6 linked regions of the Homo sapiens genome follow. The protein of the gene in region 1 purifies or fractionates together with the protein of each later gene. This does not show direct contact. Each region holds a gene or a part of one and is shown in the gene's direction. Other genes may lie near its edges. The genes, in order: UNC5CL, KDM8, FLVCR1, LRRC41, NUMBL and CHORDC1.

Region 1 (4,888 bases):
CTGTCAAAGGCCGGTGCACCAGCGGGAGGCACTATTGAATGGGAGGATCCACGTAGGGAGAGGAAACAAGTGGGGAGAGCAAGTGAGTGGAGAAACAGAAAACAGCATGAGCAAAAGCCAGAGGCTAGAATTAAGCAGGTGTGGGGAGCCTGGGCAGGCTACAGGGCAGGCGTGTTGGAAATTGTAGGGGCTGGAAGAGGGGAAGTAGGAGGAGGCGGAGGTGGGTTCTGGAGGGCCTCAGGAAGAGCTACTGGGAAGTCTCAGCCTGTGGCCTGGCTGGGTAGCCAGGTGAGCAGGAGGTGAGTGTATGCTTTTGCCCTGCCTCATTCCAGCTTCACTGTAGGGCTGCATCTTTGTGTTTTGTCTTCTTCATTTTTTTTTTTTTTTGCTTCCACTTTTAGCTTTTGTTGTTCTTGTTGTATGTTGCCTATCCCTGTGAGCTACCTTCAGGCCTTTCTGGCAGAAGGAGGGGCATAAAGAAACACATACATTTGGACAGTGCTTTCTCATCTACAAATACTTTTCACATGACCTTATGCCATCCTCACCATTACACAAAGAGGCACTTTTTCCCCACTTTTAATAGCTTCAGAAAAGAATTACAAAGTTAATACAAACTACATGCTTGATGTGAAAAATTCAAAGTACAGAGAAAAGGATTTAAAAAAATACAAAGTTTTTATTCACACCTTCCACCTTCTCAATTTGTTGTGACTCATGGGAATAGTTTGGGGGTGTGTCCTTCCAGACCTGCACAGTCTAAGACCGGATTCATTAGTACACGTGGCTACTGGGCACTTGAAATACAGCCAGTCCCAAGTGAGCTGTTCTGTTCATATAAATTACACATGGATTTCAAAGACTGGGTATGAAGGAAGAAAGTAAAAATATCTCATAATTTTATATCGATTACCTGTTGAAATAACATTTTGAATATATTGGGTTAAATAAAATGTATTAATTTCTCCTGTTCTTTTTAATGTGGCCATCAGGAAATTTAAAATTACATGTGTAGTTCACATTACATTTTTATTGTACACCACTGCTCCAGACCTTTCTCTATACCTTTACATTTCCATATATGCACCCATAAATATGTATCTATTTATATGCAGTTTTGTTTTTCACATTAATGAGCTCAGAATATTTTATCTCTCTGCGACTTGCTTTTTCCACTTATAGATTTTTTTGTATCAGCACTTGTAGATCAAGGTAGATATTTGGACAGATGAGGAAACTGAGGTACATTAAGCAGTATTGAGGCAGGAGGTGGGATTTGATTCCAGGCCAGATAGAAAACTGGCTGAAACAGGGAAAAGGCACCAAAAGCACCTCTCCATAAGACATGCCCACCAGTGCCATGACAGTTTACCACTGCCATGGCGATGCCTGGAAGTTACTGCCCCTTTCCATGGCAGTGACCCGAAGCTACCACTCCTTTTTCTAGAAATTTCTGAATAACCCACCCCTTACTGCATGTAATTAAAAGTGGACATAAATATGATGGCAGAAATGCCCCAGAGCTGCTACCCTGGGCACACTGCCTAGGGTTAGCTCTGCTCTGTAAGGAGCATACCTCTGCTGCTGCTATACTCTGCCACTTTAGTGAAAGTTGCTGTCTGACACCACTGGCTCACCCTTGAATTCTTGCCTAGGTGAAGCCACAAACCCTCCCAAACTAAGCCCCAATTTTGGGGCTCTCCTGCCTTACATCAATATGATAAGTTTACCCAGCCACAGTGACCAAGGTGACATTTGAACTCATGTTCTCTAACTGTAAACCCAAGCTCACTCTGCTTCAGAACAGTTTACCTTGATGTATTAGGTCACGGGGAGCCAGGGTAGGTTCTCGAGTAAGAGAGACAGGTTAAAAGAATTGGTGTGACTAAAGTGTGCAGTGTGCGCTGGAATGAAGACAACTTGCAGCTATGTGTAAGCCAAGCCTTGACCTCCACAACTTAAAAGGGCTTACCCTGACACTGACCCCTTCTTCCCCACCAGGCCTTTGGCTTTGGCTGGCACAGGGGTGAAGGAGAGCCAGCGGCATTGAGTAACCAGGCGAATGTGCCCCCAGGAGAGTTCATTCCAACCCTCCCAGTTCCTACTGCTGGTGGGGGTCCCAGTGGCAAGTGTCCTCCTTCTGGCCCAATGCCTTCGATGGCACTGCCCTAGAAGGCTGCTGGGGGCCTGCTGGACACTGAATGGTCAAGAGGAACCAGTGTCCCAGCCTACCCCCCAACTAGAAAATGAGGTCTCAAGGCAGCACCTGCCAGCCACACTGCCAGAGATGGTTGCCTTCTACCAGGAGCTACACACACCCACTCAAGGCCAGACCATGGTCCGCCAGTTGATGCACAAACTGTTGGTGTTTTCGGCTCGAGAGGTGGATCACCGCGGCGGTTGCCTGATGCTCCAGGATACAGGCATCTCCTTGCTCATCCCACCAGGTAACAGCTCCTGGCTCTCATCTCCGCATACAGTTGGTCAGACTGTACATTAGGTCACCACATCTGAGGGAGCAATGTTCATAGACACCTTTTACTTCTGATAATTGTTTATATTTTGAGTATAGCTTTATTGACTTCAGGGATGGACATATTACATATCTTTTGGGACAACTTCCTGGCAGGTGGAAGTAAAGTGCCTTGTTCTAATGAATCAGTATGCTGTGACAATTCTCTAGTAAAGGGAGGGAAGAGCACCATTTGCAAATTCACACAAGGCACACTATGGGCTAGCAGCAGCCTGGGTGGAAAGGGAAGTGTCTTGCTTAGGGTTACACTACAAGTCAGCTCCACAGTCGTCTTACTCTTGTTCATACCACTTCCCTGTGTGCCCTGCTGGGGGTCTCTCCTGGGCTCCTGCCCCACCTCCTTTCTCTCTGGCCTGGCCTCTTTCAGGGGCAGGGGTGTGCCTGCCTACCAGGCCCATCTCAGCTCTCCCTCTCCCTGCCAGGTGCTGTGGCTGTGGGCCGCCAGGAGCGGGTGTCTTTGATCCTGGTGTGGGACCTGTCGGACGCCCCATCGCTGTCCCAAGCCCAGGGGCTGGTAAGCCCTGTGGTGGCATGTGGCCCCCATGGGGCCTCCTTCCTGAAGCCTTGCACTCTCACGTTCAAACACTGTGCCGAGCAGCCCAGCCATGCTCGCACCTACAGCAGCAACACTACCCTGCTGGATGCCAAGGTATGGAGGCCCCTGGGGCGGCCGGGGGCCCACGCCTCCCGGGATGAGTGTCGCATCCACCTCTCCCACTTCAGGTAGGCACATGCCATTGGCCTGTCTTCCCACACCCATCTCTCTGAGGACTGTCTTTCCTGCCCACTTTCTCTGTCTGCCTTATCTTCATCTCTCTGTATAGAAGATGGTCTGCAAATCCTTTATCCCCTGGTGTCTCTTTCTGGCCCCTCTGTCCTAATGTTTGTAGCAGTTTTTCTCACATCAATCATGTCCATGACTGCAAATCCCATTGCTGTCTCTCTGTCTGTCTGGAAGTGTCTGACTCAGCACCATCTCTCCATCTAAGAGGGACCTGTCTTTCCCATCTCTCTCTGTCTTTCAAATTATCTCTCTCTACACTGTGCCCCTTTCAGGACTGTCCCCAGGCTTAGCACCAGTTCTCTAAGACTCCATTCCATCTCTGTCCTTCTTCTCTTTGTCTTTCTAGAGTCCTAGGTCCTCTGCCTCCCAGCCTCCTTGCCACCCATTGACAGGAATAGGGCCATGTGCGGGTGCCCTCCCAAGCATGGTCACCCTGAGCCCACTTTCCCTCTCTCCCCTGCCAGCTCTCCTCCCCATTCAGTCACCAGTCACTGTGACATGCTCACTTTTCATCCCCAACCTACCAGTTCCTCCCTAAGTGCTCCCCTCGAGTGTTCTCTGAACCTCCTTGAAGGCCCCACAGAGGCCCCTCAGGTGGCAGGAGGCTGGTGGCAGTGTGTTGGTGTCTTAGCCTTCCCTGCACATTAGTGCCTGCCACTGGCTCCCTCTGCAGCCTCTACACCTGTGTGCTGGAGGCACCTGTGGGGCGCGAAGCCCGCAAATGGCTGCAGCTGGCCGTATTCTGCTCACCGCTGGTGCCAGGACAGTCCCATCTGCAACTGCGTATCTACTTCCTCAACAACACGCCCTGCGCCCTGCAGTGGGCACTGACCAACGAGCAGCCCCATGGTGGGCGCCTGCGTGGGCCCTGCCAGCTCTTCGACTTCAATGGGGCTAGGGGCGACCAGTGCCTGAAGCTCACGTACATCTCAGAGGGTGAGGGAGGCAGTGGCCTGTGGGATAGGATGATCGGGAGCCCCACAGGAATGAAGGGTTCTGGGCCTCCCCTGGACATCTGGAGATCTGGGGATCCCAAGTCTCTCTCTCTTTTTTTTTCCCGAGATGGAGTTTCGCTCTGTTGCCCAGGCCGGAGTGCAGTGGCTTGATCTTGGCTCACAGCAACCTCCGCCTCCTGGGTTCAAGTTATTCTCCTGCCTCAGTCTCCTGAGTAGCTGCAATTACAGGTGCCCACCACCATGCCTGGCTAATTTTTTTGTATTTTTGGTAGAGACGGGGTTTCATCATGTTGTCCAGGCTGGTCTCGAACCCCTGACCTCAAGTAATCTACCCGTCTCGGCCTCTGAAAGTGTTGGGATTATAGGTGTGAGCCACCACACCAGGCCCCAAGTCTGTTTGTGACCTCTGGGCCAGCAGTAGCCTCATGGAGCCCCCAGGGCTTTGACCACTCTGCTGTCTACTGAGCCCTTGCCACTCACTCCTTGGACAGGGTGATGCCAGGTGGCAGGTGGGAAGGAGAGGGGTTATACCCCACAGAAGCAGGAAAGGATGGAAGGCTTTTATAGTGCAAGGGCCCTCTTGGGGTCCCAGCCCAGGCTCTGGGGATTCCCATT
Region 2 (4,888 bases), on another chromosome or scaffold:
CTAGCCAGGCACAGTGGCGGGCACCTGTAATCCCAGCTACTCAGAAGGCAGAGGCAGGAGAATTGCTTGAACTTGAGAGGCAGAGGTTGCAGTGAGGCGGGATCGCACCATTGCACTCCAGCCTGAGTGACAGAAAGACTCTGTCTCAAAAAAAATAAAAATAAAAAAACCTTCTGTGATCAACAAGAGGTCTTTGAAGGCCAATACCTGTTGAGCTCTGGGAGACTGATTTGTAAAGTGAAGATACGAGGCCACTCAGGCTTTTTGATATGGCCCACATTTGGGTTACGGTAGGTGTCAGTTTGCCTAGAATAACACCAGTTTTTTACTGATGCAGACATAAATATTAATAGCATCTTGGTTTGGATGACCCACCTATACCTGGCCACTAGAAGGCTATCTGTACAACTCCCAATAAACCCTTTTATGTAGAGCTCTCGAAGGCCAGTCTGTGGCACCACTCTCAAAGACTGCTTCACACATCTTTTTTCTTCTTGCAGGGAACTGGCAAGTCACACATCTTATTCTTGACTCCCTCCTTTGGAAGCCTGTTTGTTTAATGTAAGCCTTTTGTGTGCGTGTGCTTTTTTTTTTTTTCGGGAGGGACAGACTCTTGCTCTGTCACCCAAGCTGGAGTGCAGTGGCTAGATCTCAGCTCACCCCAACCTCTGCCTCCCAGGTTCAAGCAATTCTCCTACCTCAGCCTCCCGAGTAGCTGGGATTATAGGCGTGGACCACCACGCTGGCTAATTTTTGTATTTTTATTAGAGATGGGTTTTCACCATGTTGGCCAGGCTGGTCTCGAGCTCCTGACCTCAGGTCATCCACCCTCCTCAGCCTCCCAAAGTGCTAGGATGACAGGCGTGAGCGATGCACGTGGCCTTAATATAAGACTTTATAAACAGCAATTCAGTGAGGAGTTCTGGGAAGCCAATCAATAAAGCCAGGCCATAAGGCTACTCTGGCTAGTCCTTTCCTCTAGAAAACCTCTTGATACAACAAGAAGCCTTTTTATCAGACCAGTATATGGGAAATGCCAGAAGGCTGATGAGCCTGGACCTGAGGCCATTCAGAAAGGCAGTGACCTGTGGCTCGCACCTGACCTTCCCAGGAGGGCCATCTCAAGTGGTTGGTGGTGTGAAGGCTGCTTCTCATAGCCCATGAGGCCAGTGACCCTGGAAGATTGTTTCATACAGCCAGCAAGAGAGTGTTTCCCCAGCCAGACCAAGACTCCTTCTGTAAGGCCATTTTGCATGGCTAACAGGAGCCAATGTGAGGCTGCTCCCAGCGGGGTAGATGGACACAACAAACAATTCTTTCCTGGCACAATGAAGAAACCACAGATCGATTTGTAAAACTAAGACAAAATCTGACTTCACCTGGTCCTCAGACAAGCCCCCATCTATAGGAAGGCCAGTTTTTAAAACAAGTTACAAGGGCCGGGCGTGGTGGCTCACACCTGTAATCCCGGCACTTTAGGAGGCTGAGGTGGGTGGATCACTTGTGGTCAGGAGTTGGAGACCAGCCTGGCCAACATGGCGAAACCCCGTCTCTACTAAAAATACAAAAATTAGTCGGGCGTGATGGCATGCGTGCCTGTGGTCCCAGCTACTCAGAGGCTGAGGCAGGAGAATCACTTGAACCTGGGAGGTGGAGTTTGCAGTGAGCCGAGATCGCATCACTGCACTCCAGACTGGGTGACAGAGCAAGACTCCATCTCACAAAACTGCTTTGGAAGACTGCTTCCTATACCAGGATGTGGCTGTTTGATATGGTAACTACATAAAAGGCCAAATCATGAGAGGTTTGGGGAAGCCTATGCAACAAGGCAGAAGACTGATGCGGCCAGAATGCCACTTCACCATGCTGCCAACATAAGGCCTTGTAGGAGGCTATAGTTTTATTTTTTGAAACAGGGTCTCACTCTGTCACCCAGATGGGAGTGCAGAGGCACAAACACAGTTCACTTGCAGCCTTAAACTCCTGAGCTCAAGCAATCTTCCTGCTTCAGCTCCCGGAGTAGCTGGGGCTACAGGTGTGTGCCACCATGACCAGCTAACTAATTTTTTAATTGTTTTTAGAGACAGGGTCTTTACATGTTGCCCAGGCTGGTCTCGAATTCTTGGGCTCAAGCAGTCCTCCTGTTTCAGACTCCCGAGTAGCTGGGATTATAGGTGCCCTGCTGGGGGATAGTGTATAATAATCTTGAGGCCTTTGGGGAGGCCATTTCAAGTGGCTTATACAGAGGCAATCTGAAAAGCCATTTTGAAAACAAACTTATACAGCCATCCTGAAGCCTCTGTCTCTGGAAAACCATCATATATTGTCAACGTAAGTATCTCTGAAGGCCTTTTGATAAGGCCGTTCATTGAAGAACTCTGCATTAAAGAATAATCATAAGGCTATTTCATGTGGCCAAGAGCAGATAGTTTTGTACAGCCAACTCACAGTATTAGGAGGCCATCTTTCCCAGAAGGCTGTGTCCATTGGCCTTCAACATGAGGTCTCCAAGGCCGATTTGCAAAGTAGCAGATAGGCCGCCTATGAAGACCAAACATGAGGCCACCCTGGGAGGCCAGGTGACAAAGCAGACACGGGGCCACTGGGGGAACCTGGCTACAAAGCCGCACACGTGAGGCCACCTTGAGAAGCTGGCTTGGTAAGGCTGATAGGCGCCCTGTGAGGGGCCGTTTTATAAGGTCACCCTGAAACACCAATTTACAAAGCCCGTAATCTGCATTGCAGAGAACAGGTTTATAGCCCATTTGAAACCCTCTGGGAGGCTGTTTTCTAAGGCCATCAAGAGACAGGTTTACAAAGCTGGTACATAGAGCCCCAGTGGAAGCCAGTTTTATAGTAGGGCAATAAATGGTCTCCTGGGAGGCCTTTCCACTGGCCTTTATGAGAAGCCAGGATATGAGGCCCCTGAGGTCTTTTGGATGCTCAAGATGAGACTTCTCCATGTTGCTCTATAAGATTCATGTAAGCCACACACGGGATGAGCCAGGAGGCCACCCAGGGAGGCCAGGGATGGGCCCATGTGGTGTCTTGTGCTGGCCTAGTGGATAAGTCCATGCTGGAAATTGGACTGTGAAACGCTCCAAGAAGGCTGTGAATGAGGCCAACACAAGCCTTCTAGGAGGCTAGAGATAGAACCCACCCTGGCAGGCTGGGGCTCTCTGAGCCCTACCATACCCTGAGCTTGCTAGAAAGAAAGTTCATTGTGAACCAAGAATGGAAATGAACTCATTATAAGCTCAGCCCTGTGGATACAAAGTCCAAAGAGCTCACCCTTGAAGGCAATGAGTGTTCTGGGCAGACACTGCCACTTACTGTGTAGTTTGGCACAAATTGCTTAACCTCGAAATCTCAGTTTATTCATCTGTAAAACTCCCATCATAGGATTGCAAGGGACGTGTTAATCTATGTCAAGCATGCAGCATTGACATGGCGCACAGGAGAGGGTGCTGAGATCAGCCAGAATTTAAGCCCTGCTTCTGCACAAATGATTGACCGTAGGCCTTGGGGCAAGTCACTTCATTTTTGTTTTTTTGTTTTAATTTGAGTCAGGATCTTGCTCTGTCACCCAGGCTGGTGGCATGATCTCGGCTTACTGCAACCTTTGCCCCCAGGCTTAAGTGATCCCACCACCTTTAATCTCCTGAGTAGCTGGGACCACAGGCATGTACCGCCGTGCCCAACTAATTTTTGTATTTTTTGTAGAGACGGCGTCTTGCCATGTTGGCCAGGCTGGTCTTGAATTCCTGAGCTCAAGTGATCCAATTGCCTCGGCCTCCCAAAGTGCTGGGATTACAGGCGTGAGCCACCATGCCGGCCTTCTCGAATACTTTTCAAAGCCTGGCACTCCTGAGTGACTGCCATGAGGCAGACTCTGCTTTTAGGCTCTGGGAAACGTAGGGGAATGAGCTACGTTCTTGCCCTGGTGGAGCTGGCAGTGCAGTGTTGGATAGACACACGTGTAAGCAGGTGTTTTCATACATCCTGACGAGTACTGTAAGAGAAGCTCAAGGGCTGCAGGAACACAGAACACTGTTGGAGAGTCTTGGCAGGCCTCACATAGGGATATTTAAGATGGGCTTTAAAGGTTGGGTAGGAGTTTGCCAGGCAGCGGAGGGGTATGGGAGGCACTGCAGATGAGGACAATACACGTTCCTTTCTGAACAGACGTTTATCCAGTGCTTGCTGAGTACCAGGTGTTGCGCCAGGCCCTGAAGATACAGTGGTGACCCCAGACAGATGAGGGCCCTCCCCTCCAGAGCTTCTGCCCAACAGAGAAGACTGCTGTTGAAAAATCCTCGCAGATGAGATGCAGGAAGCTGCGGGAATGCACAGGGGATCAGGTCTGTCCTGGTGTCTAACTCTTGTTTCTCTCCACCTCCCCAGGCACGGGACTGAACCAGCTGGTGGTGGCCCGATGGCTGGAGACACCCACTGCCCCGCAGAGCCCCTGGCCAGAGAAGGCACTTTATGGGAGGCCCTCAGGGCGCTCCTGCCGCACAGTAAAGAAGACCTGAAGTTGGACCTCGGGGAGAAAGTGGAGAGGAGCGTGGTGACATTGTTGCAGCGAGCCACTGAGCTCTTCTACGAGGGCAGGAGGGACGAGTGTCTGCAGAGCAGCGAGGTGATCCTGGACTACTCCTGGGAGAAGCTCAACACGGGCACATGGCAGGACGTAGACAAAGACTGGCGCCGGGTCTACGCCATCGGCTGCCTCCTGAAAGCCCTGTGTCTGTGCCAGGCACCTGAGGATGCCAACACTGTGGCCGCAGCCCTGCGGGTCTGTGACATGGGCCTGCTGATGGGGGCAGCCATCCTGGGGGACATCCTTCTTAAAGTCGCTGCCATCCTCCAGACACACCTCCCTGGA
Region 3 (4,888 bases), on another chromosome or scaffold:
CAAACAATTAGCCAAGTTGCTAATGCAAAGGAAAAATTCTTAAGGGAAATTAAGAATGCTACTCCAGTGAACACAAATGATAAAACAGCCTATTGATATGGAGAAAGTTTGAGTGGTCTTGTTAGAAGATCATACCAGCCACAACATCGCCGTAAGCCAAAGCCTAATCTAGAGCAAGGCCCTAACTGTCCAATTCTGTGAACGTTGAAAGAGGTGAGAAAGTTGCGGAAGAAAAGCTGGAAACTAGCAGAGGTCAGTTCATGAGGTAAGGAAAGAAGTTGTCTTCATAACATAAAAGTGCAAGGTGAAGCAGCAAGTGCTGATGTAGATGCTGAAGTAGGTTATCCAGAAGATCTAGCTAAGATGATTGATGAAGGTGGCTACAATAAACCACAAATTTTCCATGTAGATGAAACAGGCTTATACTGGAAGAAGATGCCATCTAGGACTGCCATAGCTAGAGAGGAGGAATCAATGTCTGGCTTCAAAGGACAAGCTCATTCTCTTGTGAGGGGTTGATGCAGCTGGTGACTTCACATTGAAACTAATGCTTGTTGACCATTCTGAAAATCCTAGGGCCCTTAAGAATTAGGCCAAATTTTCTCTGCCTAAGCTCTAACAATGGAACAATGAACCTGAACCCCGTAGTTGATAGTACATCTGTTAGTAGCATGGTTTGCTGAATATTTTAAACCCATTGTTGAAGCCTGCTACTGAGAAAAACATTCCTTTCAAAATACTACTGCTCATTGACCAATTCACCTGTTTACCCAAGAGCTCTGATGAAGATGTACGAGGAGATCAATGTTGCTTTCATGTCTGGAAACACAGCATCCCTTCTGCAGCCCGTGGATCAAGGAGTAATTTCAACTTTCAAGTCTTATTCTTTAAGAAATACACTTCAAAAGGCTGTAGCTGCCAGAAATAATTATTCCTCTCTTGGATCTGAGCAAAGTAAATTGAGAACTTTCTGGAAAGGATGCACCATCCTAGATGCCATTAAGAACATTCTTGATTCATGGGAGGAGGTCAAACTATCAACATTAACAGGAGTTTGGAGGAAGTTAATTCCCATTCTCATGGATGATTTTGAGGTGTTCAAGACTTCAGTGGAGGAAATAGCTGCAGATGTGGTGGGAATAACAAGAGAACTGGAATTAGAAGTGGAATATGAAGAGGTAACTGAATTGCTGCATCTTATGGTAAAACCTGAAGAAATGAAGGGTTGCTTCTTTTTTTTTGGGGGGGGGTGCCGGAATGTTGCTGTGTTGCCCAGGCTGGAGTGCAGTGGCGTGATCTCGGCTCACAGCAAGCTCTGCCTCCCGGGTTCAGGCCATTCTCCTGCCTCAGCCTCCTGAGTAGCTGGGACTACAGGTGCCCGCCACCACGCCCGGCTAATTTTTTGTATTTTTTGTAGAGACGGGGTTTCACCATGTTAGCCAGGATGGTTTTGATTTCCTGACCTTGTGATCTGCCTGCCTCGGCCTCCCAAAGTGCTGGGATTACAGGTGTCAGCCACTGCGCCTGGCTGGGTTGCTTCTTATGGATAAGCAAAGAAAGTGTTTTCTTGAGTTGGAATCTACTAGTAAAGATGCTGTAAATGTTGAAATGACAACAAAGGATTTAGAATATTATATAAACTTAGCTGATGAAGCAGTGGCAGGGTTTGAGAGGATCAACTCCTGTTTTGAGGAAGTTTTGTGGGTAAAATGTTATCAAACAAGTATTGCACACAGAGAGATCTTTCATGAAAGGAAGAGTTGATTAATACGGCAAACTTCGTCACTGTCTTACTTTAAGAAATTGCCACAGCCGCTCCCACCTTTTAGCAACCACCACCCTGATCTGTCAGCAGCCATCAACATCAAGGCAAGACCCTCCACCAGCAAAAAGATAACTTGCAGAAGGCTTGGATAATCATTAGCATTTTTTAGCAGTAAAGTGTTTTTTGTTTTGTTTTGTTTTTTTGAGATGGAGTTTCGCTCTTGTTGCCCAGGCTGGAGTGGAATGGCGCCATCTGGGCTCACTGCAACCTCTGCCTCCTGGGTTCAAGTGATTCTCCTGCCTCAGCCTCCTGAGTAGCTGGGATTACAGATGCCCACCACCACAACCAGCTAATTTTTGTATTTTAGTAGAGATGGGGGTTTCACTATGTTGGCTAGGCTGGTCTCGAACTCCTGACCTCAAGTGATCCACCCGCCTCGGCCTCTCAAAGTGCTAGGATTACAGGCATGAGCCACTGAGCCTGGCCAGTAAAGTGTTTTTAAATTAAGGCATGTAGATTGATTTTTTTTTTTAGACATAATGCTATTGCAAACTTTAAATAGACTACAGTATAGTATAAACATAACTTTTTATGCACTGGAAAACCAAAAAATATGTGCAGTGGTGCGATCTCTGCTCACTGCAACCTCCACCTCCCAGGTTCAAGTGATTCTTCTGTCTCAGCCTCCCTAGTAGTTGGGACTACAGGTGCGTGCCGCCACGCCTGGCTAATTTTTTGTGTTTTTAGTAGAGATGGAGTTTCACCGTGTTGGCCGGGATGGTCTCGATCTTCTGACCTTGTGATCCACCCACCTCGGCCTCCCAAAGTGCTGGGATTACAGGCATGACCCACCACGCCCAGCAATATTCACTCTTTTGTGGTGATCTGGAGCTGAACCCACAATGTCTCTGAGATATACCTGCATTCCCTTCTGCCTAGAATGCCTTCCTCTCCTCTTGTCTGCTTGACAAGTTATTACTCAGTTTTTTCCAGTATCAAGTATGTCTTCTCTGGAAAGCCTTCTCTAATTTCCTTTGGCTGACATAGACTTTTTTTGCTCCCACTTCCCCACCATACCTTGCAATTATCACACACTGTTATACTTGTTTACATGTCAAAGTTTCCCTAGATTGGAGAGTCCTTTAAGAAAAAGAATTACACTTTTCATTTTTGTATCATTGGTTGCTAGCATTCCCGTATTTGTTCAATAATGAATGACTTATTAATTGTTAACAACTTTAGAGAGGTACTATTATTTTTTAGGCTGTTGGGATGCTATTAAATATCATGACACTACAGTGCATTAAATTTGACAATACCAAGAAAGACTTTGAGCTGCTTTTTAAAAAAATCTTCACATAACAGTTTATAGTAACTTGATGCCCCTCTGTTTCAGCATTAATCAAGTCTGATCTGCGAAGACACAACATAAATATAGGAATTACAAATGTTGATGTTAAAGCTGTAAGTAATATTTTTATGATTATACTGTTGAGAAGTATGTATAGAATAAATGTGAAACCATATTTTTTTATTTAGCTATTTTTCTCCCGAGTCAACTGTTGATCTGTTATAATAGGATATGCCAGATGCTATACATTTTTAATCTTCTGATTGTTTTTATAGATACCAGCTGACAGTCCCACAGACCAAGAACCAAAAACGGTTATGTTGTCCAAGCAGTCAGAATCAGCAATTTGAAGAGAAAGGCAAAGTTACTGTCCTGTAGTAATTGGGGACAATGTGATCATCCTTGGAGAGAGATGTGAGCACCAAGGCTGGGTTTGTATGTGGTGGGGGAATAAACACACTTACTTGAAAATTACCATATGAACTCTAAATGCATAATTATTATTTTGCTTAATTGTTAAATTAAGGGAAATTTTCTTAAAATTCTTCTGTTTACATCATGTTAACACTACTGTTTATCTAATTAGTATCCGGTTTTTAGTCTCATATTGTATCTGAAAGTAAGCTTCTTGACGTTTACTTTTTAAAAGTCGATGTTTTTCTTTTTTGTAGAAAATGGAAGCTTAGAATACTTTTTAAAGTGATAATATGGGGTGTTCAGTCCCCATAAGATATAATAGTTCATGCAGTTTATATATTAAAGTATCCAGTGGAACTAAATGTACAATATATTCCTAATTGGCTGCCTTTTTCACTGTGCTGACCAGCTGTTCAAGCCACTTCAGTTTGAGTACAACATACCAACATGACACTACTCACCCACAAAGGACAGCATTGGGATCAGGCTTTCAGATGACCTCTAAGATTTTTCCCATTTATTGTACTCTTGTTACAAAGTACTTTTTAACACATGCAGTCAATGGCTATAAAAACTATTCTGTGTACAGATTCTACCCAGACTTTGGTCTTAGAATTATGTTCTAATTAAGGAGCCTGGTTACAGGTTCATTCTGTCTTGAGTTCTTTTCTGTGCTGCCTTTCTATCATGGATAAATGCTAACGCTGTATTTTTTCACTCCAACTTGAGATAGAGTAGTTTTGTACCCATTGCCTTTTTTTTCTTTTAAACTCTCTTTTTTTTTTTTTCCTGATGTGTAACTTTCTAGTAAGATAATTTCATCATGTATGTTACTGGCTATTTCATGATTTCATGTATCACATCGTATATTTTGCCTTGAAGATTCCTGAAATAAGGAAATCTATAATAACTTCAGATAGCCTACATGTCCCCATTTAGTGGAGACCTCTTGAATGCTATTTGAATTCTGCAGTATCATTTTTATGACCATTCTCCTTTGAGGAATACTATGCCCAGGTACATGCTCTATCAGTGTGCCGGGAGAGTGGATTCTTTTCTTCACTGCAGAGTCATCACACTGTTAGAATAGTCTGCTCTTTTACATGCTCAGGTAGGGAAAATAGGACCAAATATATTTCCACAGTGCCTACCACTGTGTCATGTTTACAGTGAGAGTTTAAATATTGTTGATGTCCTGACTCTGTGAGCTCATAGGGAGTATCTTCATAGTAATGACATTTGATCAGCCATAAAATTTACATTATGTTCATATGCACCCAAAAAAGCTAGTCAGGTAATGAATACCCTTGAAGTGAATAGCAATTTTGATTTAGGCAGTGTGTTAGGCCATCCTT
Region 4 (4,043 bases), on another chromosome or scaffold:
ACCTAGCACTGTTCTCTAGGAAAGCTAAGGTCCATGGTCCATGGTCTCTGCCTCCTATCCAGAGTACAACCTAGCCCTGAAAAGACTGAGCTTCCATGACATGAATCTCGCTGACTGTCAGAGCGAGGTGCTCTTTTTGCTACAGAATCTGACTCTGCAAGGTAAGTTCCTTATTCAGAACCTGGACATTTCCTGGGTCTTCACTATGGTTCTGCCATAATCTGAGTGAGCAAACCACTGTTCCTTTCTTGGCCTTGTGTCCTCAGCTATAAAATGGATATAGAACCTGCATGATTTTCCTTCTAAAAGCCCCAACCTCAATTCCTCCTCTACTAAACATGAGAAATCGCTCTTTTAGAGTGCTTCACCCAAAAGTTGCTCTTACCTTTCAGAGGTGGACAAAATGGTGGTGGTGGGGCAAAATAAATGTACTGTGCCAGGCTCCCCTCATAGACTTTTCTCTGATCCCCACCCCCGCATAGAGGGTGGCCAGTGTTAGGGAAAGAAGGAAGTGAATGGAGAATTGTCCATGCAGAGAACCTTCTTATAGGGAACATTTAGGTTCAGTCTTTAGTTTGGATTCTGATTTAGTTCCAGCCTTGCTTGGAGTCTAGACAAATTCCTTCCTCTTTTTGGGCCTCTATAATGTTAATACCCCTTGCTAGGGCCAACTGGGGCAGGAGGGGCAGCACCAGTCCTAATGCAGCCATCAGAATTTACTATAATTTTTCTTGACAGAGATTACCTTCTCCTTCTGCCGTCTGTTTGAGAAGCGCCCAGCCCAATTTCTGCCTGAGATGGTTGCTGCTATGAAGGGCAACTCCACACTGAAGGGCCTCCGGCTGCCAGGGAACCGCCTGGGTGGGGGCCAGACCCTGGGGAGGGAGAGGGGAAAGGAGCTAGGCCTTTGACCTAAAAACTCACTGGATAAAGGCAAAGACCTCTCCACTGGGAACGTGGGAGTTGGAATACAGATATTTCTGTGCTGGGGCTTCAGGAACCAGCAGGGCTGGTTCTGCCAGCCATAGTTGGGTTGGGATACCCTTGTCCCCTGTTCTTGGGTGGAGGTGATAGGCGTTCTCCCCTTCTCTCCAGGGAATGCTGGCCTGCTGGCCTTGGCAGATGTTTTCTCAGAGGATTCATCCTCCTCTCTCTGTCAGCTGGACATCAGGTACATGAGGGGAGGGGCAAGACAAGGGATGGGGCTACAGAGATATAGACCAGGAATTCACTGCTTCCTGGATATCTAATCCATCTCACCCTACCAGTTCCAACTGCATCAAGCCAGATGGGCTTCTGGAGTTCGCCAAGCGGCTGGAGCGCTGGGGCCGTGGAGCCTTTGGTCACCTGCGCCTCTTCCAAAACTGGCTGGACCAGGATGCAGTCACAGCCAGGGAAGCCATCCGGCGGCTCCGGGCTACCTGCCATGTGGTTAGCGACTCATGGGACTCATCCCAGGCCTTCGCAGATTATGTTAGCACCATGTGATGGGGCCCGTACCTCACAGTCTCATGCTCGGTACCATCAGCTTGCAGGGGCTGAAGCATGGGCTGCCCAGAACCCCAACCACCAGTTCTATCTTTCTCTTTCTGTCACCTTTTTTCTCTTTTTTCCTTCTTCCCTTGCACTGAGGTCCTGGAGGCCTTGATGAGGCCCAGCAAACAGGCATTCTCACAGCTGGGTTTATAGTCTTTGGGCCCCTTACTCAGTATCCTGGGAACCCTGGGCCAGGAGGTTACAGTGGTCATCATAATTGCTGAAGAGATCCCCTCCCCTGCCCCTGGGTTCCTGCCTTCCCTCCTCAAGCAGGCACCCAGGCTTTAGAGAAGTATAGGGGGCTTCTTCCCTGCTGGGCTTACCACACTGCTCTCAGGCCTCAAACCCTTTCATACCTTTATTCTTTTTTTTAACCAAAAAAGTTTTTCTTATAAAATAAATTTTGGGCAAACATCATGCAGCCCTTCTTGATGATTTTCTCCCAGAGAACAAAATTCAACAGGGCCCTGTGGAGCAAGGAGCCCCTTTTCCCTATCTCCTTCCTCTAAGAGCTACACCCAGACCAGCTGGTTATCAGCGGAGGCCCCGCTGCTCCTCATGAGAACGCTGGTGGAAGACGAAGGTGATGGCAGTGGAGGCAGCATCCCAGGCAGCCTGGAGTACCTCATCCCGGAGCCCCCACTTATCAGTGCAGTGGTTCCACCCTGCCAGGTCTGAAGTGCAGTCAGAACCATCAGGGGGTGGCCGGATCTGACGGCTGTTGACACAACGTCGGCAGTGCAACCTAGGGACAGAAGGCACAGCTGAAGTCACTACAGATCCCATCTCCCTACTGTGTGGGTAGCTTAGAGATAATGGTTAGGGCACTTCCCCACCTGTCATGTGTGTCACTGAGGCTAGCTTCATCCAGGATAAACAGCTCCTTCAACTCGCCCAGAGAGAAGTGGCGCTCTACATCCTGCTCCTCATCCACCACACAGCTGCTCAGTGCCTTCTTGTGGCTCTGACGCTGGAAGATCTTCTCCTCAATGGTCCCTGCCTGGGGAAGAGGAGGTGGGGAATGTCAAAAGATACAGCGCTTAGCCATCCTCATAAAAAGGGAGCAGGAAAACCAAAGGGTTGAAACTACAGCTACCCGAGAAGAGGAGATGAATAAAAAGTATGAGTCCCAGAACATTATCTCTACTCAGCTGAGGTCCATTTTCCCAGTCTGTCTCCTGAGAACATGACATGAATAGTCTGCCCACCCAGGCTACTTTCTATACTAATGAAGGGTCCCAGGGCCTGGCTAAATCCCGTCAGGGTGAACTGAGGTTTGTCTGCTGCAGCTTCAGATTTCTGCACCAAGCCCAACTCTAACTCATTCAATAAATATCATTTAGGTATCTATTCTATTCCAGACCCTGTGCTGACATTAGCATACAAAAAAGAATCATATATATCCCCTATCCTTTAGCTCCTAGACAAACATTTAAACAGTTGATACAATGATAGAAATCTATACAGGGTAACTGCGAGTCCATAAGGATGGTAGAGTAGAACAGTATTGAAAACTTGAAACTCTATCCTTGAGCTCAATCTTGAAAATGAGTAGATGGTTTGTAAGAAAAGACACAAAGAAAGGTATTCCCAGCATAGGAACAAAGGAATACTACTGGCCTATTGGAGGACTGTGAGTAGTTCAGGCTAACTGGAGGTTGGTGGGAGTATAGTAAGAGCTGAGACTGGGAAGTCAGCAGAGGCCACATTAAAGAACCTTGGGGACAGGCACGGTGGCTCACGCCTGTAATCCCTGCAATTTTGGAGGCCGAGGCAGGCAGATCACAAAGTCAGGAGTTCGAGACCAGCCTGACCAACATGGCAAAACCCTGTCTCTACTAAAAATACAAAAATTAGCCAGGGGTAGTGGTGGGCACCTGTAATCCCAGCTACTCAGGAGAAGCAGGAGAATCGCTTGAACCCGGGAAGCAGAGGTTGCAGTGAGCTGAGATGGTGCCATTGCACTCCAGCCTGGGCAGCAAGAGCAAGACTCCATCTCAAAAAACAAAAAACAAACCTTGGATGCCATGCTGAAGGCCTTAATCTTGTCTTCGAAGAGACGAAAAATAAAATCTGAATTTTTGGAAAGCTCCTTCTGGAAGCAGTATGTGAACAATGGGTTGGGATAAGACAGAAGTAAACAATTAGGAAGCTGCTGCAATATCCAAGTGACAGATGACCATGACCTCAGGAGGGCTTGGAGAGCAAGGTTAGATTAAGGAAATTTCAAGAAGGTAAAAATCAGTGAAAACTGGTGGGAATCTGGTTATTAGGAGAAAAGAATAGTCCAGTAAGATTATTCCCAGTTTTGGGTTGGGTGGATAATGGAGCCATTAAGAACAACATTCAGAAGGGGAGCCAGGTGTGGTGGCTCATGCCGTTAATCCCAGCACTTGGGAAGGCCAAGGTGGATCGCTTGAGTCCAGATGTTCGAGACCAGCCTAGGCAACATAGCAAGACCCCTTCTCTACAAAAAATAAAGAAAAAAAGTTATCCGGGTGTGGTGG
Region 5 (4,888 bases), on another chromosome or scaffold:
TCCCACCCTTTGTGTCCTCACGGCCCTGGGAATGAGGAAGCATCCACCACATGGACAAGAAGCCCTCCAATGCCCTGAAGCCTGTGCCCCATACCCCCCACCCCAGACCTCCAGCCCCTTAGCCCCATGGTTCTGAATCCCCAGTGCCCAACTTTCGCACTCCCCTGGCTTCTGTTGGCTCCTTTCCTCACTGTCCCCTGACTTGAGCTGCTGATCCCATGTGCGCTGCCAACTGACCCTGTAACCCCGCTTCCAGTTATCTTGTTATCTGACCCCATGCTCCCTGAGCACTGGTCCCTCCCCGTTGAGCTCCATACCTTCTGACCCCCACCCTTGACCCACATCACTGTCCTGTGTCACCAGACGGGGCGGGCACCATGAACAAGTTACGGCAGAGCCTGCGGCGGAGGAAGCCAGCCTACGTGCCCGAGGCGTCGCGCCCGCACCAGTGGCAGGCAGACGAGGACGCGGTGCGGAAGGGCACGTGCAGCTTCCCGGTCAGGGTGAGTGGGCGCGGCAGGGTGCGGCGGGGCGAGGGGGACGGGGGCCGCTGTGCTGTGCTGTGCGGGTGCGCGGCCTGGCTGGGACACCAGCCCAAGTCGTTTGAAGTTGGTGTTAAAAAGCGTGAGGCCGGCAGTCCTGGCTATCACGGTGAAACCCCGGCTCTACTAGAAATACAACAAATTAGCCTCGCGTGGTGGCGGGCGCCTGTAGTCCCAGCTACTGGGGAGGCTGAGACAGGAGAATCGCTTGAACCCGGGAGGCGGAGATTGCAGTGAGCCGAGATAGCGCCATTGCACTCCAGCCTGGGCGACAGAGCAGACTCTGTTTCAAAAAAAAAAAAAAAAAAACTTGAAGCGTAGTGGTGGCTAACACCTGTAATTCCAGCACACTGGGAGGCTGTGGTGGGAGGATTGCTTGAGTCAAGGAGTTCAAGACCAGCCTGGGCAAACACAGGGAGACCCTGTCTCTACAAAAAATAGGCACAGTGGCACGCACCTGTAGTCCCAGCTACTCACAAGGCTGAGGTGGGAGGCTCACTCGAGTCCAGGAAGGTCGAGGCTGCAGTGAGCCTTAATTGTGCCATTGCACTCCAGCCTAGGCAACAGAGTGATACCCAATCTTGAAAACAAACAAAAAACCAGAACACATTTTTTTGTACCAGCAAACTATTACCTGGAAGCCGTCATGTGGTGTAGCATTTGCAAAGCGCTCTACCGATAAGGACGTTCTGGTTTAGCCATACCCTACGCTTTTACATTCCTGTGAGGGGGAGAGCAGGATTCACGGCGTGGACTGTGGAGCTCAGCCCCTTCCTGGCTGGGTGATGACTGACCATGGTCACAGCCCCTCCACCACCTTACGTTCCCTTCCCTGGAAGCAGACTTTGAATGTGACGGCTTCATTTGGGAGGTGCAGGAAATGGTGTTGGGAGTGAGGAAAGTAAGGCAGCCAGTAAAGGGTGTGTTATTAAAACTGCAGCAGTGTGCAACTGAGCTTTCCCCTGGGAAACTCGAGGCAACAGTCATCCCACCTGCAGATGAGGGAGCTGGGGCTCAGGTACCCTAACTCCCTTCAGTCATTGTGGGGACTGGCCCAGGCTCTTTCTAGCTGCTTTAGGGTAGGCAAAGCAGCTTTGCATGGCCTGTGGCCAGTCCTCACGCACAGAGATGCAAATACTAGCTCTCGGGAGGACCACGGTGCCGGGTTAGGGCCCAGGGGTATAGCTAGACTGGAATCACTACTACGTGCTGTGCTTCAGTTTCCCCATCTGCATGTCTAGACCAGGAATGGGGTCTCCACCTTGTAGAGTTGAGATGCAGAATAAATGATTGCATACACATCATGTGCTTAAAATATTGTCTACTGCATGGCAGATGCTCAGTGGACACTGAGAATGAGTGATTACTGTGCTGTTTCATGTCCCCCCCCCCATTCCCTCCAACCCAAGTACCTGGGTCACGTGGAGGTAGAGGAGTCCCGGGGAATGCACGTGTGTGAAGATGCGGTGAAGAAGCTGAAGGCGGTGAGTGAGGGGGCTGCCATGAGGGAGGGGGCAAGGTCAGACAGGGAGAGGCACCCTGACCCGGCTCCTTTGTCCCCTTGCCTCCCTCCAGATGGGCCGAAAGTCCGTGAAGTCTGTCCTGTGGGTGTCAGCCGATGGGCTCCGAGTGGTGGACGACAAAACCAAGGTAGGAGGCCTGTGGGGGTGGACGCCAGGGGGCCTGTCTGCTCACCCTGCTGGAATCAGGGCGGAGGACACCTTCCCGCCTCCTCTGCACATCCCTCCCTCAGGGACCTTCTAGACGATGCCGTGTGCTCCCTCTGTCGTCATAACTCAGGAATAAATGCTGTGATTATTTGGGAACTGGCATAGGCTGTGGGTGAGAGAGACTGGAGCAGCTGCCTCAGCTCCGATCCCAGCTTAGGGACCCTGGGCATGAGATTTAACCTCTCTGAGTCTCAGTTGTGTCATCTGAAAAATGCAGATTATAGGCCGGGAGTGGTGGCTCACGCCTGTAATCCCAGTACTTTGGGAGGCCAAGGAGGGTAGATTACCTGAGGTCAGGAGTTCGAGACCAGCCTGGCAATATGGTGAAACCTCATCTCACTAAAAATACAAAAATTAGCTGGACATGGTGGTGTGTACCTGTAATCCTAGCTACTTGGGAGGCTGAGGCAGGAGAATCTCTTGAACCCGAGACTTGGAGGTTGCGGTGAGCGGAGATCATGCCATTGCACTCCAGCCTGGGCAACAAGAGCTAAACTCCATCGCAGAAAAACAGGGATTATAATAGACCCTACCATTAAGTGAGAAAGCATATGCAAGTTATTTGAAATGGTGCCTGGCTGGGAGGGCCCCTTGAAGCCAGGAGTTCAAGATCAGCCTGTGAAACATAGCAAGGCTCCATCTATACAAAATAATTTTTAAAAAAATTTAAATGTGGGCTGGGCACGGTGGCTCACGCCTGTAATCCCAGCACTTTGGGAGGCCAGGGCAGTTGGATCACCTGAGGTCACGAGTTCGAGACTAGCCTGGCCAAGATGGTGAAACCCCACCTCTACTAAAAATACAAAAATTAGCCAGACGTGGTGGTGCGTGCCTGTAATCCCAGCTACTTGGGAGGCTTAGGTAGGAGAATCACTTGAACCCAGGAGGCAGAGGTTTCAGTAAGCCAAGATCATGCCACTGCACTCTAGCCTGGGTGACAGAGCAAGACTCCTTCTGGGAAAAAAATATATATATATATTTAAATGGGGTCTAGTACATCGTAACTGCTCAGATCAATGAATGTTAGCCATTAAGTGTTTATTGTCACCCTGCCCAGTCAGAAGGAAGCACTATGAGGCCACAATCTAGGTATCTGTTTGCTCACCTTGAATCTGCTGCCCCCAGCCCAGAGACTGCCCTAGGAGGTGCCCAGGACATGCTGAGAGTTGGGTTAATAACAGAACAAGATCACCACCTTTGCAAGGCAGTTCCCTCAGCCCAAAATACTGTTCCTTGACTTTTTTTCTTAGTTAGTACCTGCTCCAGGAAGCCTTGCCTGACTGACCCCAAGCTGGCTTCTGCCATGCTGGCCCTGACCCCTCTGCCTGTGCCTCCATGGTCCTGGCCCTGACCCCTCTGCCTGGGCCTCCTTCATCACATCCTGGCTATGACTCTGGGCTGCCCATCTCGTGATGGGTCTGATCTTCCCGCTGACCTGGGAGCCCTCTGCAGGCAAGGCACAGGGTGTCTCAGTGACTGCTGGGTCCCCACCCTGTTCAGGACTGGATTTCAGCAGACACAGAGAGAATGTTGAGTGAACACTTGAAAGAGAGTTCACACTCTTCTCCTGGCCTCCCCGGCCCCTCCTAGGATCTTCTGGTCGACCAGACCATCGAAAAGGTCTCCTTTTGTGCTCCTGACCGCAACCTGGACAAGGCTTTCTCCTATATCTGTCGTGACGGGACTACCCGCCGCTGGATCTGCCACTGTTTTCTGGCACTGAAGGACTCCGTGAGTATTGCCACAGCTGGCCAACTCTTCCCTCCCATGCCCTGGCATCCCAGCCCCACCCCTACAAGCTTCCTGCATTCAGGCACATCACTAACCTCTGTGTGCCCAGTTTCCTCATCTGGAGAAGAAAGTATACTCACGGTTCCCAATTTAGAGTATTCACGTGAGGGCCGGGTGCAGTGGCTCACACCTGTAATCCCAGCACTTTGGGATGCTGGGGCGGGGGGATTGCCTGAGCTCAGGAGTTCAAGACCACCCTGGACAACATGGTAAAACCCCATCTCTACTGAAATACAAAAAATTAGCTAGGTGTGGTGGTGCACACCTGTAGTCCCAGCTACTTGGGAGGCTGAGGCAGGAGAATCACTTGAGCCCGGGAGGTGGAGGTTGCAGTGAGCCAAAATTGCACCACTGCACTCCAGCCTGGGAGACAGAGTGAGACTCCATCTCAAAAAAAAAAGAGTATTGGCCAGGCGTGGTGGCTCACGCCTGTAATCCCAACACTTTGGGAGGCCAAGGCAGGCAGATCACCTGAGGTCAGGAATTTGAGACCAGCCTGGCCAACCTGGTAAAACCCCATCTCTACTAAAAATACAAAAAAAGTAGACAGGCATGGTGGCAGGCGCCTGTGATCCCAGCTACTCCAGAGGCTGAGGTAGGAGAATCACATGTGGGGAGAATCACATGAACCCTGGAGACGGAGGTTGCAGTGAGCCAAGACTGCACCACTGCACTCCAGCCTGGGTGACAGAGCGAGACTCTGTCTCAAGAAAACAAAAAAAAAAAACTATTTGGGGATGAGAATGAAAGCCAGAAAAGAGCAGGACCATCTCCTGTGGGTAAAGAATGTGATGTTGGATGAATTCCTTCCTACTTCTGAAGGAA
Region 6 (4,888 bases), on another chromosome or scaffold:
TCAGATCTGACTCATTCCTGCTGCCATGCTGCCAAAATTGACTTATTGTGACATTTTATGCCTCTGACTCTGTTATACATTGCGTTTATGTTTCTGACTACTTTAAATTTGGTGTTTGAAAATACTGGATCTATTCTCTACTTCCATTCCCCTCTCAACTTCATGTCCTTCTGCATACCCATTTCTACTTCCAACCTCCTTTTTCAGCCCTTAATTCCACAACTACCCTTAATTAATAACATCTTTCTGATCCCACGGATTTACTTACTGTATCAGGAAGATACCTAACACTTTCTACATTAGCTAGTATCTATGCAGCACATGGTTACTAAGGAAGCAATACTGGCTAGTAACGGGGTAGGGAGATTTCTGTGAGCACCAGTAGTAAATTTTGAGGCAACACCAGGAATCAGGTGATAGAGCAAGGGTGTTCAATCTTTTGGCTTCCCTGTGCGACATTGGAAGAAGAGGAATTATCTGGGCCACATTGGAAGAAGAATAATTGGGTCACATATGAAATACACTAACACTAATGATAGCTGATGAGCTTAAAAGAAAACAAAAACAAAATTCATAATGTTTTAAGACAGTTTACGAAATTTGTGTTGGGCTACATTCAGAGTTGTCTGGGGCGGCATGTTGGACAAGGTTGTTGTAGAGCATTGAAAGCTAAATAGACTTGAAAGGTTGAAAGATAGTCTTTTAAGCAGATTGCAGAGGGATGAAGCTGACTGTTACCTGATTTTTAAAAATATAGTACTCCATCTTGCAAATTGCTGAGAGCAGCTTGGTCGTGGAGACCCTAACCCGGTGGTGCTAGAGGAATTAAAGACACACACACAGAAATATATAGTAAGGAGTGGGAAATCAGGGGTCTCACAGCCTTAGAGCTGAGAGCCTCCAATGGAGATTTACTAAAAGTATTCCTTACGGGAAATAAAGGGATGGGCTCTGGCTAGTTATCTGCAGCATGAACATGTCCTTAAGGCACATATGGCTCATGCTATTGTTTGTGGTTTAAGAATGCCTTAAGTGTTTTTCCGCCCTGGGTGGGACAGTTGTTCCTTGCCCTCATTCAGGTAGACTCACAACCTTCTAGCCTGGGCATCAAAGCCGTCACGAGCATGTCACAGTGCTGCAGAGATTTTGTTGATGGCCAGTTTTGGGGCCAGTTTATGGCCAGATTTGGGGGCCTGTTCCCAACACAAATTGTAATAAACCCATTTACATAAGAGAAGTAAAGATTGATGGTGTAGTGGGGAGGGAAGTATAGAATAACACCCAGTGAGAATCTAGAAAATAGGCTGTAGAACTTGAGAGTTTTTTTTGTTTGTTTTTTTTAAGATGGAGTCTTGCTCTGTCACCTAGGCTGTAGTGCGGTGGCATGATCTTGACTCACTGCAAACTCTGCTTCCCAAGTTCAAGCGATTCTCCTGTCAAGATCCTGAGTAGCTGAGACTACAGGCATGCACTACCACGCCCGGCTAATTTTTGTATTTTTAGTAGACACGGGGTTTCACCATGTTGGTTAGGCTGGTCTCGTACTCCTGACCTCAGGTGATCTGCCTACCTCAGCCTCCCAAAGTGCTGGGATTACAGGCATGAGCCACCAGGCCCACCTAGACTTCTATTTTTTTTTTTTTTTTTAATTAAAAAGTAAACTTTAATGTTGAAAATGCACACTTGGGGAAGGCAGAAAGATCACACACAAGGCTGTCACTTCACACTTGGAAGGTTGCACAGTGGCCAGGCAGAGGTGCTCCTCACTTTCCAGACAGGGCTGCCGCCAGGCAGAGGCACTCCTCAGTTCCCAGACTGGGCGGGGGCAGGGCAGAGGAGCTCCTCACTTCCCAAACAGGGCAGGGGCCAGGCAGAGGCACCCTAGTCTTCTTTTTAGTGAGGTTTGTACCTAGGAATGACTGTGTCTAGGAAAGTTAAATTACCAATTAGATACTGCAAAAAATCTTTACAGTATTTAAAATGTTGAGCCTGTTATTACAAAATGTCTTTAAGGGAATCTCTTGTGAAACCTTTATGGATGAATGCACATAAGAATACTTCAAGTTTGATAGTACATTTGTAAAAGCAGGTTTGAAAAATGATGGTCAAAATTTGGGGGTTTGAAGTTTTGGTACTAAACAAATTTTACTACCAAGATTAGGGGAATATAAAATATAATTGTTATACATAAACAATTCTGTATTTTTGTCCTTAGTCATCATATGCTTGAATTAGAATTTTTAATACTATTTTAATATAGTACACTTTGTGCTGCACGTCAAACTCAATCATTTGTACCTTTTTAAGGTACTTGCGTTTGGAAAAAGGATTAAAGGTTAACACCTTAAGGAGATGATCATGTATATATTTTTCTTCATTATAAAGAGTGGTACTTTTTTTTTTTTCTCTGTTTTCTCCAGATGCTTGCACATACCACCCAGGTGTTCCGGTCTTTCACGATGCATTAAAGGTAGGAACTATATTTTCATTTTTTTCATATCTGTGTAGTAAATTGAGAGATGTAATACTAAATCTTTATTTTCTCATCTTTTTTTCTCAGCTAGTGACTTTCTTCTTAATGACCTTTGCGGGGGAGGTGCTTTAAGCGTATACTCCACTAAAGACAAAGAAAAGACAGTAGATGATGATCTTAAGGTCTTTTCCAGTTATAAAATTGTATTTTAATTCTGGGTTTTTTTTTTTTTTTTTGAGATGGAGTTTCACTGTGTTGCCCAGGTGGAGTGCAGTGGTGCGATCTCAGCTCACTGCAACGTCCGCCTCCTGGGTTCAAGCGATTCTGCCTCAGCCTCCTGAGGAGCCGGGATTACAGGCACCTGCCACCATGCCCAGCTAATTTTTGTATTTTTAGTGGAGACAGGGTTTCATCATATTGGTCAGGCTGGTCTCGAACTCCTGACCTCAGATGATCCACCTGCCTCAGCCTCCCAAAGTGCTGGGATTACCATGCCTGGTCTTAATTTTCATTTTCTACACCCATTTCTTCACTTTTCTAATTTTGAGGGAAAATAGAGTGGTTGTATTGAATCTCAGTCTGTCACTACTGGCTAATAACAGCTCTGAATTTTAGAAAAGATTCTTATAAACATTTAGTGCCAATCTCGGGACAGACCTGTGAGTTTTCCAGCTATACTTCTTGGATGTTCTGGAGAATTGGTGGAATGTTGTTTGACTAGGTTTTTGCTGGTCATCTTTTTAAAATTCATGATAGTATGATACATTTAAAGAGTTTCCTTTGTATATCTCAAAAGATGATGCTGTGGTAGGGCTGCCATGGTTTTAGGTTCTACTTCTTTGGTTCTCAGGAACATAAGCAGTCTTAACATGTTTAAATATTGTTGGTGCCCTTTAAATGTCTAATTATACCTTCCAAAGAGTAGTTAGACTGTTTTGGCACTTCACTGTTAACACCACCAAATCTAACAAAAGATGTATTAGTCTGGTTAGTTCTGAGTGAGGAAAACAGAGAAGACATTCAGTAGGGCAAGTTGAGACCTTATTCCTCCATACATTTTTTTAGTTTTTACAAATCTTTGTTGTGGTGGAAACTGTGGTGCTGTGGAAATGTTTATTTTTCTTTTTGTGGAATTTTATTTTTCCTAGACTGCCATTTCTTCTGATATTTTTGTTTTACTGTGTCTTTTTCTTTTTTTCCCTATGCTGTTTTCCTCTTAGCTCTTAAAGGTAACCTTTGGCTGTTTTCTCTCATTCAGTTCATTCATTGGTTTTCTCAAATGTCACCTCTACGCCGATGGCTCTTACAACATATTTCTATTTATGTGTCTCATTGGCAACATCAAACCAGTTTCTAGTGTGTACCGTTTATTCCAAAAGTAGTCTGCCTCTCAACTTTACTGCTCCTAGTAATGATACTACTGACTTTCTGATCATTTGGTCCATTGCCCGTTTTTTCTCTTACCGCATTGTTAATCACTCCAAGTCTTAATGAATTCACTTTGAAGTATTTTTGCTTCTCTCTCTTTTGCAGTTGTAGTGTTTATTGTGGTCTCTATTTTATAACCATTTCTTAAAGTCCTAGACTTTCCAAGATTATTGGATTTCACAGTCCAGAAGATTTCAGACAAAATGCGTATACATCAATACAGGGATACTAGTTGACCAAGTAAGAAGTTAAACATTGCATTGACAAAAGAAATACTATTTTAATATTAGAAGGGGCATATTCAGAGAAAAGGACAATCTTGCTGAAAAAAGACAACTAGCAACCTTATATTCACATAACTTAAATTTATCTTTCCTTTTCTCATTGTACTGAAGACTAGCATAGAATCCAGATTGGCATTTGGGAACAGCTGGCCTGTATTGTATTTTACATGTGTGTATCACAGTATCTGACATAATTTAGTACATGATTAAGACAGTAAAACTTTTTCTCTTATAGAATAACTTTTCTGTTGACTATATTATTGATGCTATTTAAACCCTATATTTAAGGTTGTAGTAATTGATCTACATCTCAATTCGGAGTAAAAGATAATTAAATTTCAAATTAAAGGAAAATTTGAATTATAGGATATTTGAAATTACCTTTAAAGAAAAAGAACCTACAGGTGCATATAATGAGAAAAATCACTACCATATTTTTATGCAGTCTTTTGAAAATCAGCGAGGTCCAGGCGGATGTGTGCAAAGTTGCATCTTAATCTGAATTTAGTCCCAAATCTTAATCTGAAGTTCCAAGTTTTGAGATTTTGCATTTTTGTTTCCCTATGCTCTATAAACATTGGAATTTAGAGATAATTATTAAAGCCATTTTTTGGTAAACTACTTGATAGTTTGTTCAAAAATCACAAATACTAATAGTTTCTCTGTCTTTATGCTTCTCACTGAAAAGATCACCTTCAAAGGC

What was found.
Region 2: the proteins of UNC5CL (region 1) and KDM8 purify together in Homo sapiens (affinity purification with mass spectrometry; 2 studies listed by BioGRID and IntAct, with this or other methods). This does not show direct contact.
Region 3: the proteins of UNC5CL (region 1) and FLVCR1 purify together in Homo sapiens (affinity purification with mass spectrometry; 2 studies listed by BioGRID and IntAct, with this or other methods). This does not show direct contact.
Region 4: the proteins of UNC5CL (region 1) and LRRC41 purify together in Homo sapiens (affinity purification with mass spectrometry; 2 studies listed by BioGRID and IntAct, with this or other methods). This does not show direct contact.
Region 5: the proteins of UNC5CL (region 1) and NUMBL purify together in Homo sapiens (affinity purification with mass spectrometry; 2 studies listed by BioGRID and IntAct, with this or other methods). This does not show direct contact.
Region 6: the proteins of UNC5CL (region 1) and CHORDC1 purify together in Homo sapiens (affinity purification with mass spectrometry; 2 studies listed by BioGRID and IntAct, with this or other methods). This does not show direct contact.

What each region holds. Positions count from the first base shown.
Region 1 is NC_000006.12:41,032,249-41,037,136, reverse strand, and holds part of UNC5CL (UNC5C-like protein), read left to right. Parts: intron 1-2,001; 5' UTR 2,002-2,062; coding exon 2,063-2,447; intron 2,448-2,955; coding exon 2,956-3,256; intron 3,257-3,990; coding exon 3,991-4,253; intron 4,254-4,888.
Region 2 is NC_000016.10:27,205,689-27,210,576, forward strand, and holds part of KDM8 (bifunctional peptidase and arginyl-hydroxylase JMJD5), read left to right. Parts: intron 1-4,404; coding exon of another isoform or gene 4,405-4,435; coding exon 4,436-4,888. UniProt on the Homo sapiens protein: Bifunctional enzyme that acts both as an endopeptidase and 2-oxoglutarate-dependent monooxygenase.
Region 3 is NC_000001.11:212,891,825-212,896,712, forward strand, and holds part of FLVCR1 (choline/ethanolamine transporter FLVCR1), read left to right. Parts: intron 1-3,161; coding exon 3,162-3,229; intron 3,230-3,391; coding exon 3,392-3,466; 3' UTR 3,467-4,888.
Region 4 is NC_000001.11:46,276,310-46,280,352, reverse strand, and holds the end of LRRC41 (leucine-rich repeat-containing protein 41), read left to right. Parts: intron 1-62; coding exon 63-161; intron 162-738; coding exon 739-861; coding exon of another isoform or gene 862-911; exon of another isoform or gene 912-1,089; intron 1,090-1,095; coding exon 1,096-1,171; intron 1,172-1,268; coding exon 1,269-1,488; 3' UTR 1,489-2,070; coding exon of another isoform or gene 2,071-2,281; 3' UTR 2,282-2,372; coding exon of another isoform or gene 2,373-2,536; 3' UTR 2,537-2,891; downstream 2,892-4,043. Other genes in the region: RAD54L (DNA repair and recombination protein RAD54-like), read right to left, coding at 2,071-2,281, 2,373-2,536. UniProt on the Homo sapiens protein: Probable substrate recognition component of an ECS (Elongin BC-CUL2/5-SOCS-box protein) E3 ubiquitin ligase complex which mediates the ubiquitination and subsequent proteasomal degradation of target proteins.
Region 5 is NC_000019.10:40,680,032-40,684,919, reverse strand, and holds part of NUMBL (numb-like protein), read left to right. Parts: intron 1-363; coding exon 364-503; intron 504-1,951; coding exon 1,952-2,026; intron 2,027-2,117; coding exon 2,118-2,192; intron 2,193-3,862; coding exon 3,863-4,003; intron 4,004-4,888. UniProt on the Homo sapiens protein: Plays a role in the process of neurogenesis. Required throughout embryonic neurogenesis to maintain neural progenitor cells, also called radial glial cells (RGCs), by allowing their daughter cells to choose progenitor over neuronal cell fate.
Region 6 is NC_000011.10:90,215,717-90,220,604, reverse strand, and holds part of CHORDC1 (cysteine and histidine-rich domain-containing protein 1), read left to right. Parts: intron 1-2,420; coding exon 2,421-2,470; intron 2,471-4,888. UniProt on the Homo sapiens protein: Regulates centrosome duplication, probably by inhibiting the kinase activity of ROCK2. Proposed to act as co-chaperone for HSP90. May play a role in the regulation of NOD1 via a HSP90 chaperone complex. In vitro, has intrinsic chaperone activity.